2 separate regions of the Homo sapiens genome follow, and region 1 is linked to region 2. A link means that fine-mapping ties the variant in region 2 to the expression of a gene that starts in the linked region. Tissue or cell type: thyroid. Region 2 holds a variant in brackets; the other region holds the start of a gene. All regions are shown on one strand. Distances are between the middles of the regions.

What was found. PIP is the estimated chance that this variant, and not a neighbour inherited with it, causes the effect.
Region 1: SNUPN starts here. The variant in region 2 is fine-mapped to the expression of SNUPN in thyroid (GTEx, PIP above 0.99). The same link has a PIP of 0.9 or more in lung and subcutaneous fat.

The regions. Positions count from the first base shown.
Region 1 is chr15:75,621,950-75,629,871 of GRCh38, reverse strand. SNUPN (snurportin 1) reads left to right here and starts at 4,147. Exons shown (of 9, transcript NM_005701.4): 1 at 4,147-4,206. RefSeq lists an enhancer at 3,779-3,968 and a silencer at 4,619-4,668.
Region 2 is chr15:74,781,661-74,789,582 of GRCh38, reverse strand. It overlaps CSK (C-terminal Src kinase), which reads right to left and starts at 7,503. Exons shown (of 13, transcript NM_004383.3): 1 at 6,863-7,503. MIR4513 (microRNA 4513) reads left to right here and starts at 826; the gene lies at 826-911. RefSeq lists enhancers at 1,896-2,115, 2,186-2,375, 5,144-5,203, 5,214-5,343, 6,226-6,801 and 5 more and silencers at 1,606-1,783, 7,034-7,293, 7,404-7,623. The variant A/G (reference allele first, on the strand shown) is at 4,863.

The DNA of each region.
Region 1 (7,922 bases), 840 kb before region 2:
AACTGTTTAAAAACCCTCATCTGCAGACAGGCATGGTGGCTCACACCTGTAATCCCAGCACTTTGGGAGGCCAAGGTGGGCGGATCACCTGAGGTCAGGAATTCGAGACCAGCCTGGCCAACATGGTGAAACCCCGTGTCTACTAAAAATATAAAAATTAGCCAGGCATGGTGGCGCATGCCTGTAATCCCAGCTACTTGGGAGGCTGAGGCAGGATTGCTTGAACCTGGGAGACGGAGGTTGGAGTGAGCAGAGATCGCACCACTGCACTCCGGCCTGGGCGACAGAGCAAGATATGTCTCAAAAACAAAAACAACCCCCACGCACCCCCCAAAAAAATAAACCCTCTTCAGCAGTGGAGGTAAAATCCAAACTCCCCACCGTGGCCTGAGGCCCTTACCTGCCCCTGTGTCCCAGCAGCCTCTGTGATCTTACCTCCCTCCATTTCCCCTCTGGGCTGGACACCTTCCTGCTCTCAACCTTCTCTTTTCTAAGTAAGGATTCTCCTGCCCATGGGCAACCAGAAGATTTTAAGGGGTACACAGATTCCACTTTAATGACATTGAATAATAGAGTGAGAAAGTGGTTCTTCCCTCTTCTGTCCTCTTTGAATTTTTCTGATTACGTCAAAGAAAAATTCTGTTAGTGTGACTCCTTATCACTTCAACACTTGCTAATCTCTGATTTTTACAAAGTCCCCAGACTTACAGCTTTCTGCAGACATCCATATCTATCTAGCAAGATTATATTAGGTTGGTGCCATTAATTTTAATGGCAAAAACTGCAATTACTTTTTTTTTTTTTTTGAGAAGTAGTTTCACTCTTGTTGCCCAGGCTAGAGTGCAATGGCGCCATCTTGGCTCACCACAACCTCTGCCTCCTGGGTTCAAGCGATTCTCCTGCCTCAGCCTCCTGAGTACCTGAGATTACAGGCATGTGCCACCACGCCCGGCTAATTTTATATTTTTAGTAGAGACGGGGTTTCTCCATGTTGGTCAGGCTGGTCTCAAACTCCCGACCTCAGGTGATTTGCCCGCCTCGGCCTCCCAAAGTGCTGGGATTACAGGCGTGAGTCACTGCGCCCGGCCAAAAACTGCAATTACTTTTGCACCAGCCTATAACATTATTTTCACGTATTTATTTATTTACTTATTTTTGAGATGGAGTTTCGCTCTTGTTGCCCAGGCTGGAGTGCAATGGCGCGATCTCGGCTCACTGCAACCACCGCTTCCTGGGTTCAAGCAATTCTCTTGCCTCAGCCTCCCGAGTAGCTGGGATTACAGGCATGCACCACCATGCCCAGCTAATTTTGTATTTTTAGTAGAGACAGGGTTTCTCCATGTTGGTCAGGCTGGTCTCGAACTCCTGACCTCAGGTGATCTGTCTGCCTCAGCCTCCCAAAGTGCTAGGATTATAGGCATGAGCAATGTATTTATTTTATAGATACCTTCTAATAAAGTGGGAAGTGATTGATGTAAGGTAATGCTATGATGTTGCCCTTTTTTTTTTTTTTTTTGAGACAGAGTCTTGCTCTGACACCAGGCTGGAGTGCAGTAGCGCGATCTCGGCTCACTGCAACCTCCGCCTCCCAGGTTCAAGTGATTCTCCTGCCTCAGCCTCCCGAGCAGCTGGGACTACAGGCATGCGCCACCATGCCCAGATAATTTTTGTATTTTTAGTAGAGATGGGGTTTCACCATGTTGGCCAGGATGGTCTGGATCTCTTGACCTTGTGATCTGCCCGCCTTGGCCTCCCAAAGTGCTAGGATTACAGGCATGAGCCACCACACCTGGCCAATGTTGCCCTTTTAAATAAATGTAGTCAGGCTTTTTTCTTAAATTAATTGATTTAAAGACATAAAGCACAGTGTGTGCATGTGGCCAACATTCTGAAGCTGAGATTCCAGAGGTAGCCCCTTCTGAAACACCCACTGGCTCTAAATGAACCCCTGGGCCAGGTGCTCTGGTTTTTGTTTGTTTTGAGACAGAGTCTCCAGGCTGAGTGCAGTGGCAGGATCACAGCTCACTGCAGCCATGACTTCCTGGGCTCAAGTGATCCTCCCACCTCAGCCTTCCAAGTAGTTGGGATCATGACTCATACCACTACACCTAGCTAATTTTTTTTTTGTGGAGATGGGTTTTTGTCATGTTGCCCAGGCTGGTCTCAAACTCATGGGCTACTTCCACCTTGGCCTCTCAAAGTGGTGGGATTACAGGCATGAGCCACAGTGCCTGACCTGGTTTTGTTTTGTTTTTTCAGTGATATGGGAAGTTATTCAGCTAGGTGTGAGTGAGGAACTAGAACATTTCTCCTGGACCTCCAGGCATGAATTTGGGAACTTCTTTCTCAGTCTCAGTCTATTTTCCTAAAATGTTTAAGGTCTTTATTCTTTTCTATGCAGCCCGACCATTAGATGTGACCTCCGTGGTTGTAAGGGATGGTTGTTTGGACACAAAATACCTAATATCCTGGGTGTCAAAATTCCCTAGTGAAGTCAGGCCCTGGACTTCTCTTTTTTGTCAGTCTCATAAATCAGGCAGACATGAGCTTTTATTTGTGGATGCACCAAATAAATACCCTAGTGGACAGCTTTGCTCAGCCTGGCCACTGAAAGAGCCACCTAAATAAAATCTCAGGTCCAGGCCGGGTGCGGTGGCTCACGCCTTTAATCCCAGCACTTTGGGAGGCCGAGGCGGGCAGATCATGAGGTCAGGAGATCGAGACCATCCTGGCTAACACAGTGAAACCCCGTCTCTACTAAAAATACAAAAAAATTAGCCGGGCATGGTGGCAGGCGCCTGTAGTCCCAGCTACTCAGTAGGCTGAGGCAGGAGAATGGCGTGAACCCGGGAGGCGGAGCTTGCAGTGAGCGGAGATTGCGCCACTGCACTCCAGAGCCTGGGCGACAGAGCGAGACTCCATCTCAAAAAAATAAAAAAAAATCTCACGTCCAGAAAAATTGGCCTTCCAGGGCCCCAGAACCCTTTTTACCAGTCTAGTAATAGCCTTTCATCAGCCTAATTTCCTATTCTTTTTAGTCTGAATGTATGGTGTAATGTGCATAAAATACACAAGTCCAAATTTTAGCATTCCGTGGACGCAAAATGTGCCAAAGGTGGATACTTTGCTTCTGTCATACATCGGTAGTCAACTTCCCTATACATCAAACTTTCAGCAAATTCAAACATTTTCCTTGAAAGCTGTGTTACTTTGGCCAAATTACTTAACCTCTCTGAGCTTCAGTGTGTCTACTTCCTCATGTCATGATTAAGAGTTAATATCTACTGGCTTAAAAAAGAAAAAAAAGGAAAAAAATTAAATGAGATGATGGGTGTGAAGCAGGGATTGGCTGAATGTAAGCATTCAATAAATATTCAGTTTTAAAATTGTAATCTCAGCCTTCCCGCCCTGCAGAGGCTACACCCTGGCAGGACTTAATCTCCTAAATCTCTGCCGCTTACCCTAGTCTTTTGCACCAATTTAATCATTCCTTCACGCAGGGTCTACTGAGCGCCATCCCTTGTGCTGGACTCTGGCTACTTAAATAGGAATCAAGCCAGGTCCCTACCATTGCTCAGCCCGCAGCCGAGTGGGAAAGAAGCTCGCAAAAGCAGCAAACAGGCAGTAATCGAGGTATGTATCTGCTTTTGTTAAGGGCAAGTGGGGGAGCGAAGGTCTGTGTCTGAAACTTGGGTGTGAGGGGTTAGTTGGAGTAATCCAGGCAATTGGCACTGCCCGTTTAAGAGCACGGGCCCAAGAGGGGAAGGGGACTCCAGGTGAAGCCCTAAGGCCCGGGAAGATCTGCGGGAGGCGGCAGGGCCCAGGGCGTTGAATGCCCGGCCACAAGATCAGCCTCCTCCCATTGGCGAAAGGAGCCCCGAAGAGCTTGTGTTCAGGAGGGAGGCCTCGGCCTGGTCAAGTCATCTAGCAGGAAGAGTCCCGGACAGTGCAAAGCAAATGCAAGAAGACCCCCTCCCTAGCCGATGGGAAATGCCCCAGCCGTTGAAGGCGGAAATAACGGCCTGTAGGCAACGGAACTCCCAGCGTTCGCAAAGGAGGGAGGAGCCGGAAACTCAGGGCGCGAGGCCTGTGGGCCCAGCGGTGAGGCAGCAGCTGGGGGCGGGGGGAGGGCGGACCTAGCTTCCCAGGGCAGGTGATTCGTCGGCCCCGGTGGCGGCGGCGCGTGCGACGGTCACCTCGGTTTGGGTGAGTCCCTGGGTTCGAGCCCGGGCCCCGCCAGCTGCCGAGTTGCCTCTCGGTGCCGGACTGTGACTCCCTCTGGCCGGCCCTGCACTCTGGCCTCCTGGGACGTCATCTGGAGGGATAGAGCCAGGCCTGGGACTCCTTTTGGGAGAGTTTCCGTTCTTCTATTCCGTGCTGTCCGGCCAGGACCCCTCAGGGACTTCTGTGGGGCAGGGGCGAATCATGCATGGCCTAGATGACCCCATGCCTAGAAAAAGGCAGTGCGGGGCGGTGGCGGCGCGCACGGCCGAGTGAAGCAGATAGCGTCCCCGGGGCTGGAGCCCGGTAGCAGGGGTAGGGAAACGCGGAGGCTGCCAGGATGCGGACCCAGGGGACGCGAGGCGGGGGCGCCGGATGGGGAGACGCGAAGGAGGGGGAAGGGGATGGGGGAGGGGGCTAGACAGGGAGGGAGGGTGGAGCGTGGGCGGGGCCTGGGGCGGGTCGGACTTTAGGGAGTTGGAGCGGGGGTTACTGGTGCTAAGACCACCTGGGGCTAAGGTCCGAACACTTGGAGGCAGCACCATCCAAGGAATGGGTTGAAACAGCAGGAGCCCGGCGGGGCGCAGTGGCTCACGCCTGTAATCCCAGCACTTTGGGAGGCCGAGGTGGGCGGATCACCTGAGGTCAGGAGTTTGAGACCAGCCTGACCAACATGGTGAAACCCCATCTGTACTAAAAATACAAAAAAAATTAGCCGGGCGTTGTGGCGCGTGCCTGTAATCCCAGCTACTCGGGAGGCTGAGGCAGGAGAATCGCTTGAATCCGGGAGATGGAGGTTGCAGTGAGCCGAGATCATGCCACTGCACTCCAGCCTGGGCAACAAGAGCGAAACTCTGTCTCAAAAAAAAAACAACAACAACAAAGAAAAAACAAAACGAAACAGCAGGAACCCGCCAAGAACAGCCTTGAAGGAAGGTAAAGGAACCGCCCCAGTATCCAGGACATCAGTTTTTCTTTTTTTTTTCTTTTTGAGACGAAGTCCAGGCTGGAGTGCAGTGGCACGATCTCGACTCACTGCAAGCTCCGCCTTACGGGTTCAAGCCATTCTCCTGCCTCAGCCTCCCGAGCATCTGGGACTACAGGCGCCCGTCACCATGCCTGGCTAATTTTTTTGTATTTTTTTTTTTTTTTTTAGTAGAGACGGGGTTTCACTGTGTTAGCCAGGATGGTCTCGATCTCCTAACCTCAGGTGATCTGCCCGCTTCAACCTCCCAAAGTGCTGGGATTACAGGCGTGAGCCACCGCGCCAGGCCCAGGACATCAGTTTCAAAGGTTGTGTGGTTCTTGGCAGAGCGGGAGCCCACACCAAGATAGTGCATGATAGGCCTAATAAAGGTGCTTTGGATTTGGTCATTACTTTGGTGATGAACTGAAAACATAATGACTTTTTAAAAATTTTTATCGGCCGGGCGCGGTGGCTCACGCCTGTAATCCCAGCACTTTGGGAGGCCGAGGCGGGCGGATCACGAGGTCAGGAGATCGAGACCATCCCGGCTAAAACGGTGAAACCCCGTCTCTACTGAAAATACAAAAAATTAGCCGGGCGTAGTGGCGGGCGCCTGTAGTCCCAGCTACTTGGGAGGCTGAGGCAGGAGAATGGCGTGAACCCGGGAGGCGGAGCTTGCAGTGAGCCGAGATCCCGCCACTGCACTCCAGCCTGGGCGACAGAGCGAGACTCCGTCTCAAAAAAAAAAAAAAAAAAAATTTTATCATGAAAGCTTTCAAACTTACACAAAAGTACAGAAAAGTAGAGACAATAGCATACATACCATTATGGATGATTTGAATAACATACCATATGGATCCCAAGCACTCATCATGAGGCCTCAGTCACTCAGGAATGGCAACCCTTGGTTGCATTGCAAAGATATTAAGGCACACCTCAAGCCGGGTGCAGTGGCTCATGCTTGTAATTCCAGCACTTTGGGAGGCTGAGGCAGGCAGATCACTTCAGGTCAGGAGTTTCAGACCAGCCACGCCAACATAATGAAACCTCTTCTCTACTAAAAATACAAAAATTAGCCGAGCATGGTGGTGCATGTCTATAATCCCAGCTACTCAGGAGGCTGAGGCAGGAGAGTTACTTGAACCCAGGAGGTGGAGGCTGCAGTGAGCCGAGATCACACCACTGTAGTCCAGCCTGGGAGACAAAGTGAGACCCTGTCTCAAAAAAAAAAAAAAGGCCGGGCGTGGTGGCTCACACCTGTAATCCCAGCACTTTGGGAGGCCAAGGTGGGCAGATCAGGAGGTCGGGAGATCGAGACCATCCTGGCTAACACGGTGAAACCCCGTCTCTACTAAAAAATACAAAAACAAAATTAGCCGGGCGTGGTGGCGGGCGCCTGTAATCCCAGCTACGCGGGAGGCTGAGGCAGGAGAATCACTTGAACCTGGGAGGCGGAGGTTGTGGTGAGCCAAGATCGTGCCATTGTGCTCCAGCCTGGGCAACAAGAGTGAAACTCTGTCTCAAAAAAAAAAAAGTTTCTTTTATGTTTAAAGGTTACAGAGGTTCAGTTATTCAAGATAAAAGGAGTTCTGGAGAGTTCTGCACAGCAGTGTTGAACATACTTAACTTTACAGAACTGTACACCTACAAATGGTTAAGATGATGAATTTCATGATATGTGTATTTAGCCACAATTTTTTTTTCTTTTTACAGACAAGGTCTTGCTATATTGCCCAGGCTGGCTTCGAACTCCTGGGCTCAAGCATACCTCCTGCCTCAGCCTCCAGAGTAGCTGGGACTAAAGGCAAGCACAACTGCACCTGGCAAACCACGATTTTTAAGTTCCTTTTAAATTAAACAAAATCTAATGTTTCAAATCAAGAAAAATATCTGACTTCACTTGTGCAATGGAAAGTAACTCACTGGCCAAGTAGAGGCCTATGGAGTTGTATTTTTCACTGTAGAGGCTCTGGAATGAACCTGTTGATTTTGATGCTCAGAGCACTGGACCTGGCCTGGGATGGAGGTTAAGCACTGGAGGTGCCCTCTGGTTTACACTAGAACCAAAGGGCTGGGCCAGCCCAGCAGTGCAAGTCAGATTTCTCCCAAATGTTCCTGTTTTCTTATAATCTAAGGCTCACAGGCGCTTGAATGAAGTGTGAATTCACCTTTCTCCCCACTCCCATTCTTTAGGGTCCACCTAAAGTGGGAAGTCTGTTTTCAAAATGACATCTACTCCATGCCTGTCTTGTTTCCCTAATGTACTTTATGGAAGTTCTTCACACTACTGGAGCATTGACGTTACTTGTTAAGCAGCCTTCCACATCCTAGCTCTTTTCCAAGTGAGTCCCACATAAGTAGCCCTGAAACCTTCTTTCTGCCCACCCAAAAACAAAACACAACTAGAATATGAGGAAGTAACAATCAGATTTTTTAAAAAATAAATTATAATTTAAAATAATTTTTTACTTTTTTATTTAAAAAGTAGAGACATAGTCTCACTACATTGTCCAGGTTGGTCTTGAACTACTGGCCTCAAGTGATCCTCCTGCCTTGGCCTCCCAAAGTGCTGGGATTACAGGCATGAGCCACCTGTAATCCCAGGTCGCTAGAGTTTGTTTTTTTGTTTGTTTGTTTGTTTGTTTTTTGAGATGAAGTCTTGCTGTGTCGCCCAGGCTGGAGTGCAGTGGCACGATCTCGGCTCACTGCAACCTCCGCCTCCCAGGTTCAAGCG
Region 2 (7,922 bases):
AAGTTTCAGATTTGGGCCCGCCCCTCCAAAGGGCAGTGCACCTGAGGAGGGCGGGGCACCCACCAGCAGTTGGGCAAGTTTGGCAGCAATAAAATCAGCTCCACCTCTGGTTCTGCAGAGGACACCAGGCTGAGGCACTGTGACATTCCCCACCACACATCAGGCAAGGAAGGGTGCCCGAGGGCTTCCACTGACCCCCGCAGCCTGCGCTGGTGGTCCCTCAGCACCCCCACTGCACAGGTGTCTCAGGGTGAGCAGCAGCAGAATTGGGCGCCAGGGTCTTGGAGATGCCTACACCTCCCGGGGCGGTTACGAAGGAACAGAAGAATGCCTGCTCTGGCTCCAGGGCACGCTGCCCTACCCCCATCCCGGGGCTCCCGTCAGCACCCTGACCTAAGGAGAAGGGCGGATTTAATGGATAAATACCAAATTATAGCAACACACTGGCTTTTTTTCCCCTGCCCCCAATGGTTCAGTGGGACCGGAAATCCCGTCTAGTGGTTTGGGAGAGGTGGGGGCTGGGGTTAGAGCAGGCTAATGGGGAGCCTACTCCCCAGGCACCGCTGCGGCTTGAGGCTGCCATTCCTGGCCCAGAAAGGTTTCTAATTACCGCTCAGGAGCCTAATTACCTATGTGCGCTGGGCAATGGGGACTCTGGGCCTCCCCAGGGCCCTAACCCAGGCCTCTGCTCCCCCACCCCCTTAGCACAGGATGTGGTCTTTGCATCTTCATTTGCCTGCATTTGCATATAGCCTCTCAGCACTAGCCTTCAATGGACCCTTCAAAGTCATGTTCTTGTCCCTCACCCGGAAGTCTCCTGGCCACATTCTAGGTGGGGAGACTGACGGCTGGAGGCCCATAAGCTGTCTAAAACTTCGGCCCCCAGATTTCTGGTCTCCCCACTTCAGAACCAGGATCTGCAGAACACACAGCTCAGAAGGTAAAGCTGTGGGGATCAACACAAAGGACAGACTTGCTACTACTTAAGGGAGATGGGGGTGTTACCAGTACACTCCTCCAGCAGGATGGGCTGCAGAATGAGAACACGGGAATTACAGCTGACTGACCCAACCGGGTTTGGGGCACTGCATTAGTTACTTAATCCTTCAAACACCCCATAGGGCAAGGACTGGTGATCTCTGACAGAGGAGGAACTAGCTGTGTGGGTACTTGAGCTCAGAGTTGTCTGAACCTTGGTTAGGGGACCTTTCTTCCCACCTTTCCTTGTGCAGGACAGACGACACCCTGAAAATGGACAGGTGGGGGGCACCGAGGGGAGGTCTGCCCAGAGCTTGGCTGTTCTGCTCTGGGAAGCAGAGGTACTTCTGTGCCCACTTCTTGCTTGTCTGCATACCCCAGCCTCTCAGAGAGGCCAAGAGCCTGTCGAGGGACACACAGAAAAGAGCCAGCAGCCCTAGAGAGGGCAGAAGCTTCAAACAAGGACCTCTCCTCCTACCACGCTTCTTCTTCAAACACTTCTCAACTTTCACAGGACCTTCCCCTCCAGGAGGCCCTCCAGGCTGCCCCAGCCCACGCAGAGCCCCAGCTTCAGAGCTCCTACCAGCTCTGCCAGGAAGTGAGAACCACAGGCCTCCCCTCACTGACTCCTCGTCTCCTCTACCCGCCAGCAGAGGCGCTCTCAGGGTTTGCTCTTCATCCTTCCCTCCTGTCTCCCTGCAGCACGGACAGCACAAGCTGCAGATAGATAGATGCGCGAGTCTGCATGAGGACCAGGTGTCAGGCTGGGCTGAGAAGCAGCAGCCAGGGTCCAAGGGGGGCAGATGATGCCCAGGTTTTCGCCTGCCCACGAGGCTTACAACCATGCCATGATCAGGACAGCCAGGGGGGCACCAAGCAGCCTCTCTTCTACTTGTTCCTTCGACTCTGGGCCCAGACCACAGAAGGAGGGGTGGAGGGAAGCTGCGGTTGGAGGGTGTGTGCACAGCTAGTGTGTGATGAGAAGCTGACTTCATCTTAGCACCTCAAAACCAGGAAGAGAAACTGAGCAGGCAGAAAGGGCAGGCTGGGCTGCACAGGGCCCTCCAGTCCCTGGGGGCCTGCTGAGGGGAGCTCTCAAATAGTCGCTTGACAAACCACTTCTCCTTTCTGGGCCTCAGTTTCCCCATGGGAAAAATGGGATTTTTTTTCTAATGGGTCCTGCCAGTCTGCCCTGAGTGGTGCCGTCTACACTTAATGGGCCACATCATGGCAGATAAAAGAGCACCCCCCCAACTGGTGGAGTACTTCTGATCCCGAGGAGCAGGGGCTCAGCCACCCAAAGCCAGCCTCTCCCTGCTCACTTCTCCCCTCAGCCATGCAGGGAGCACCAGCTCTTCCTTCACCAGCTCTTTATTTTTAGGTCTGAATTTGACTTTAATCATTACTTAGCGGATTCTATTTCCAGCCCTTGGATGAAGGGACCCAGAGGAGAGGGGGAAGGGAGGCAGTGCTCCCTGCCGGGCGTTGGGGGTGGCCTGCTCCTCCACCCATCCTGTCCCCAACCAAGGGCGGGGGAAACTGAGAAACACCCAAAGGGCTCTCATCTGAGCCAGGCCAGGCCAGCATCTTGGGGCGGACCCCACCCTGTGACCTCATCCCATCCCAAGCTGTGGGACAGGAGGGCAGTTGTCATGCCCACTTCCCTTACACTAAGACCAGGGAGGAGGAGATACTCCACAGGCCAAAGTTTGGCAGCTGGAGTCTGAAGTCGTGTGCCCAAGGGACCTCTGCACTGAATGGGCCACCTGGGGGAGGACCCCTTCCTTAGGTTAGTCCTGGGCCACCCTAGGGTCATCTGGGGCTACAGTCTCTTAGGCCCAGGGTTGCCAGGAGGAGACTGGTGTCCTGCTACTGCCCACGGGGTGGCTGTAGGAGGGCACTCCCAGTTACCCTGGTCTCCACAAAAGTAGAACAAGAGGAAGCAGGTGTGTCACAGTGATACACACTCAGGTTAGACCTGGGGAACACCTGCTGAGGAGGGGGAGGCTAACATGAGTTTCCCGATGTGTCCAACTCCCTCCTGGGAAGCTCTGGGAGGCTCCAGAATCCCCCTACCCTTAATCTCCCAGCTTCTTTCCCTTCCTTGGCTACTGGAACAGGGTGCGAAGATGAGGCTGGCATGGCTGTTCTTGGGCTGGGGCTCAGGATGCCTGGGTTCCTTGTCTAAGTCTCAGGCTAAGCAGGCCTCTATTTCCTCTGGGAAAATGCCAAGCTGGGCTGACCTAGCCAGAGCTGGGAGGCAGGAGGCAGCCAGGCTCTTACAGAAGAGGCGCAGTGGCTCACGCCTATAATCCCAGCACTTCAGGAGGCCGAGGTGGGTGGATCACCTGAGGTCAGGAGTTTGAGACCAGCCTGACCAACACGGAGAAACCCCATCGCTACTAAAAATACAAAATTAGCCAGGCGTGATGGCACATGCCTCTAATCCCAACTTGGAAGGCTGAGGCAGGAGAATCGCTTAAACCGGGAGCCGGAGGTTGTGGTGAGCCAAGATCGCGCCATTGCACTCCAGACTGGGCAACAAGAGCAAAACTCCATCTCACACACACACACACACACACACACACACAAAAAAAAAAAAGAGAGAGAGAGAGAGAGAAGAGGCCTTGTCTATTTAGCTCTGATGCTGGGAGACCGGAAGGGGAATGGGTGGAGTCAGGTCCCGGACCCTAACCAGCAGCCCATCTTCCCAGGGCCAGCCCCATGTCCTAGGCCAGCCAATCATATGGTAATGGGGAGAAGGGAAGGCAGGCAAGGGCACTGGCCATAGTATTCTAGAACCTCAGGGCCAGGGGGTTTCACAGGGGCTCCTCAGGCGGAGACCACCTCTTTGCCAGGTGAGTGGTCAGTCAACATTGGCCCGTGGCTCAGGCACCTTCCCCACAGGTTGAGGCAGCCAGCAGTGGGCACTCCTTCAACAATGCCAATCCTACTCACAGAGGGAGTGAAGAAAGGGCTGTGCCAGGCACTTTAGAGTCCCTTGGTTAGTTAGTTGACACTGTCCTTACACCTTCCTCTGAAGTAGGTGTTACCATCCTGTTATTTATATCAACGAGGCTCAGCAGGTCAGTGACCTGTCTAAGGTCCCTCTACCCTGGGCCTAAGTGGCATGTCTGGGCCTGGAACCCACATTCAGTTGGGTGCCAAGTTGCTTGTGCCCTCCAACACCCTGGCTGCTTTTGGGACTCATAGTAACGACAACCACAACAGCAACAGAGGGGAAAAATGCACACGCTCCAGTGTATGGGTGATGGCGCTGCAGCAGGCCAGCCTAGAATGTTCTGTAGCTTTTTAGAAGCAACGTTACTTAGACCGCGTAGCACCATGAGAAAATGCCCACAGACGCAGTATTAAATGAAAAAAGGTGTCACGGCACACACACTCCAGTGACAACGACAATGAAGGAAAAGGATGGGGAAAAGACTGGCAGTGAACTCCAAAATGCTAACACAGTCACTGCCTGCTGAAGAAATAGTGGGTGATTTTTGTTTCATTTTCTAAATTTCCTGTAGCGCTGTTTTGTTATTTTCTAAATCAAGAAAATGAGTACATTCATGGTTTCCCTATAATGAGCTCAGATTCACTTCCCTGGGACCCACCTGCTCCCTAGCTCTGGCCCACGTGTCTGGGACAATTTCTGCCATGGGATGCCTTTCTCATTTGGGACAGTCCCTCAGACATATGAGAATCTGTCCCTACTTTCTCTTTCCCAGACTCAGTCAACATCCCTGGCTCTTTGAAGATGACCTGTCAAGGTTTTAAAATCCTTCAAAAGATGGAGCCCAGAACCGCACCCAGGTGGGTCTGCCCCCTTTGGGGGGCAGCCATGTCACACTGTGGATCCTGGGTCTCAACCCCTACCT[A/G]TACTTGTTTGGAGGAAGCTGCATTCTGTCCCCGAAATTTCCAACCCTTGCCGAGGGCCACTCTGTGTGGCTCAGCCTTTTGGGGTCTGGCCCCCCTGCGGTGGTGAATGGGAACATTTTCTGCTTTTTCCTTGCCCCTGACCCAATGCAGAGAGAAGAGCAGCTGCTTCTGAGAGGGTGGAGGGCACCAAGCTCACCAATGAAAAGCACATCCCTGCACACGTGCCAGCCAGAAGCCAGACTCCTTTCTTCAAAGGCCCTGGGACCCTGGATCACACCTTCACAGCTCACAGTTGGTAAAAAAATAAAATAAAATAAAATAAAAATTAAAAAGGCTGACTGGGGTGGGAGGGAGCTAACCATGTCAGGCTCCAGCCCCAGTCCCTCAGGCTGGAAAGGAAGTTAGGGCTGGGTGTGGGGCCATGTGAGGGGAGTCTCACAGGCCCAGGACATCTGGGTCCCCTCCACTGTGCATGTCAGGACAGCCAGAAAAAAAAGTGAAAAAACAAAAAAACCCTAAATCGTGAGCAGGGACCCAGCAGGACAAAACTGCCAGCAGCTCCAAGGGAGCCCAGACACTGCTCAGCACCCACCAGGGCAATGCCTGCTCTCCTGGGCCAGAGGATCCTGCCAGGCCTCAACCTCACCCCTGCTGTCCTTGCCCTGTTCCTGCTGTGGCCACAACCAAGAAAGACACTGGAACCGCCAGGGTACTAGGAGCTTGAAACAGGCCCCCTGGGTGTCCCCACTCTCACAATGCTCCCATGTCCCCAGTCTGTAGCCTGCTGCCAGTGGAGACAGAGCTTCCACGGTTCCCATGTGACCCCATTTATATCCTGAACTTGGCTGCTCCTGTGCCAGCTGGGCCATAGGTGTGGCGAGTGCTGGGTCAGGACTGACCACCAGGTTGTTTCAACTCAGAGCCGGGGCCAGGACCGGACCTTCCTGCCACACCACACAGATGGCCATACACCACACATTCCCCACATCTCCTGCTAGCTGACCCAGCCACAGCTGGAGCCGGAAGCCCTTTCACTCCCTCCAGCCCTCTGCAGGGAAGCACGTGCTCAACCAACAAGGTCCCTCTGGGGCCGGGCTGGGGGCCTGTGTCCCCAGTGGGTGAAGGTGCCTGCCTGGTTTCCTTCCACCCACAGCCATCCAGCCCTGTATAGCTGGGGATGAAAGGACAGCCAGCCTAACTCCACTAGAGGCCTGGGGTAGCAACTTCTCCCTTTGAGCCTCGGTTCCCGGGTGTACAAAATGGGCGGGGAAGTGAACTGGTAGTTAAGCTCCAAAAAATCTGCTGGCTGGACACACCCCTTCCTGACACCTGGTCTGGGCCACAAAGAGCCTAGGAGAATGGGCTGCCCAGGGTGCCAGAAGGTGGGGGCATGGTGCTAATGCTCCGTTACCTCCCCCCGGGCAGAAGGCCTGCCCAGTTTCCCACCCAAAGATCCCTTGGCTTAGGCCTGGTCTTCTGAGAGGCCAAGGGTGACAGGCTCAGTCCTAGGACCTGGGCTTCTAACTGCTCACCCGAGGTGGCTGGGCCCTGGGCTTGCTTGCAGCCCGCAGGGTCATGGTGGGGTAATGAGGGAGGGGTCAGAACCAAGCAAGCCAGGGCACCTGCGGGGAGGCCCTGTACAGGGAAGGGCAGGGGAGTCCAGCACTCTCTCTAGGGACCTGGCCCATACGGATCCTCTTCCTCCAGACTCCAGCCACCTCCTACTCTGAGCTCCACAGAGGGGGGGACTCGGGATGACCCGAGAAGACGAGTCCGTGGAGCTGCAGGGCAGTACCTCCCTCATGCACTCCCTTCCAATTTGGGTTCTGACAGTGGCTCCTGGGAGAATTCGAACCCGTGCAAGGGAGTAAAGGAGAGAAGGGAGAAGTGGGAGAAGAGGGGAATGGGAGTGGACGCGACAGTGGCAGCAACAGAGACTAGACGCGCGACCTCCACCCTCTTCCCTCCAGGGGACACTCCGGGACGGCCAGGCACTCACCTCTCTTGGGGCACTGCGGTCCGGGCCACCTCGCCGCGGGCGGCATCAGCGGCCTGCGGGACGGTCCATGCGGTCAGGGGGGAGGGGAGGGGCGCAGGGGTCCCCAGGGGGTGCGGTACAAAGAGGTATGGGTGCAAGGAGAGGGGAGGAGGGACCGCCAGGCAGAGGCAGGGGGACGGACGCACGGCCCGGGTCGCGGAGGGAAGAAAGGCGGGGGAAGGGGGCGGGAGGGAGTCGGGGGGAGGAAACAATGTAGCCGGCGCGGCCCCGGCAGAGTTCCGCTTCCGAGCGCCGCCACTGAGGTTCGATTTTGGAACGTCGCGCTGGCTGCCGGGGGCCGCCCCGGACGCTCGATCGGGGCCGCGGGGCTCCTCGCGCTCCACGCCCCGCGGGCTCCGGCGGCCAGAGGCTGGCTGGGGCGGGAGGGACGGCGGGCCGGGTTACGGCCCCGACGGCGGCGCAGCCGGGCGGTCGCCCGGCTCGGACCCCACCCCGGCAGAAGCCCCCGGGCAAGGCGCGGGTGGGGCAGGAGCGGGAGGGCGGCAGCGGGCTCGGCGGCGGCGGCGGCCAACCTCGGCTCGCCCAGGGCTCCGCTGGGAGGAAGCTCGCAGGCCTGGCGAGAGGAAGCGCGGCCCGGATCCTCCGCCCGCGGCAGCGCGCCTGCGCGAGGGGGCCTGCCCGGCGCGCGGCGGGGCGTGGGCCGGCGGGGCGGCGCCCCCTGCCGGGCGCCGGGGGCACTGCGGGGGGTGTGTCCGCGCCCACGCCCTGCCCCCACTTGCCGCCTGGCTGCGTTGAAGGCTCCGAGGGTCTCTCCTCAGCCGGCCTGGGAGCAACCTCCCAGCCTTCTCTGGACGCAGCTTTCCCGCTGCAGAAGCGCTGGGGGCCGGGCCTGGGCCCCTCTCCTCAGGTCTGTTTGTGGAGAGTGGGCCTGATTCGCAGCAGAAAGCCTTCATTCATTCATTCACCAACATTTCCTGGCGCTGACATCGTGGCGGAGCCTGCTCTGGAGTCTATTGGCAAGACCATTTCACTACCGTCAAGGCGTTCTCGGTCGGGTGGG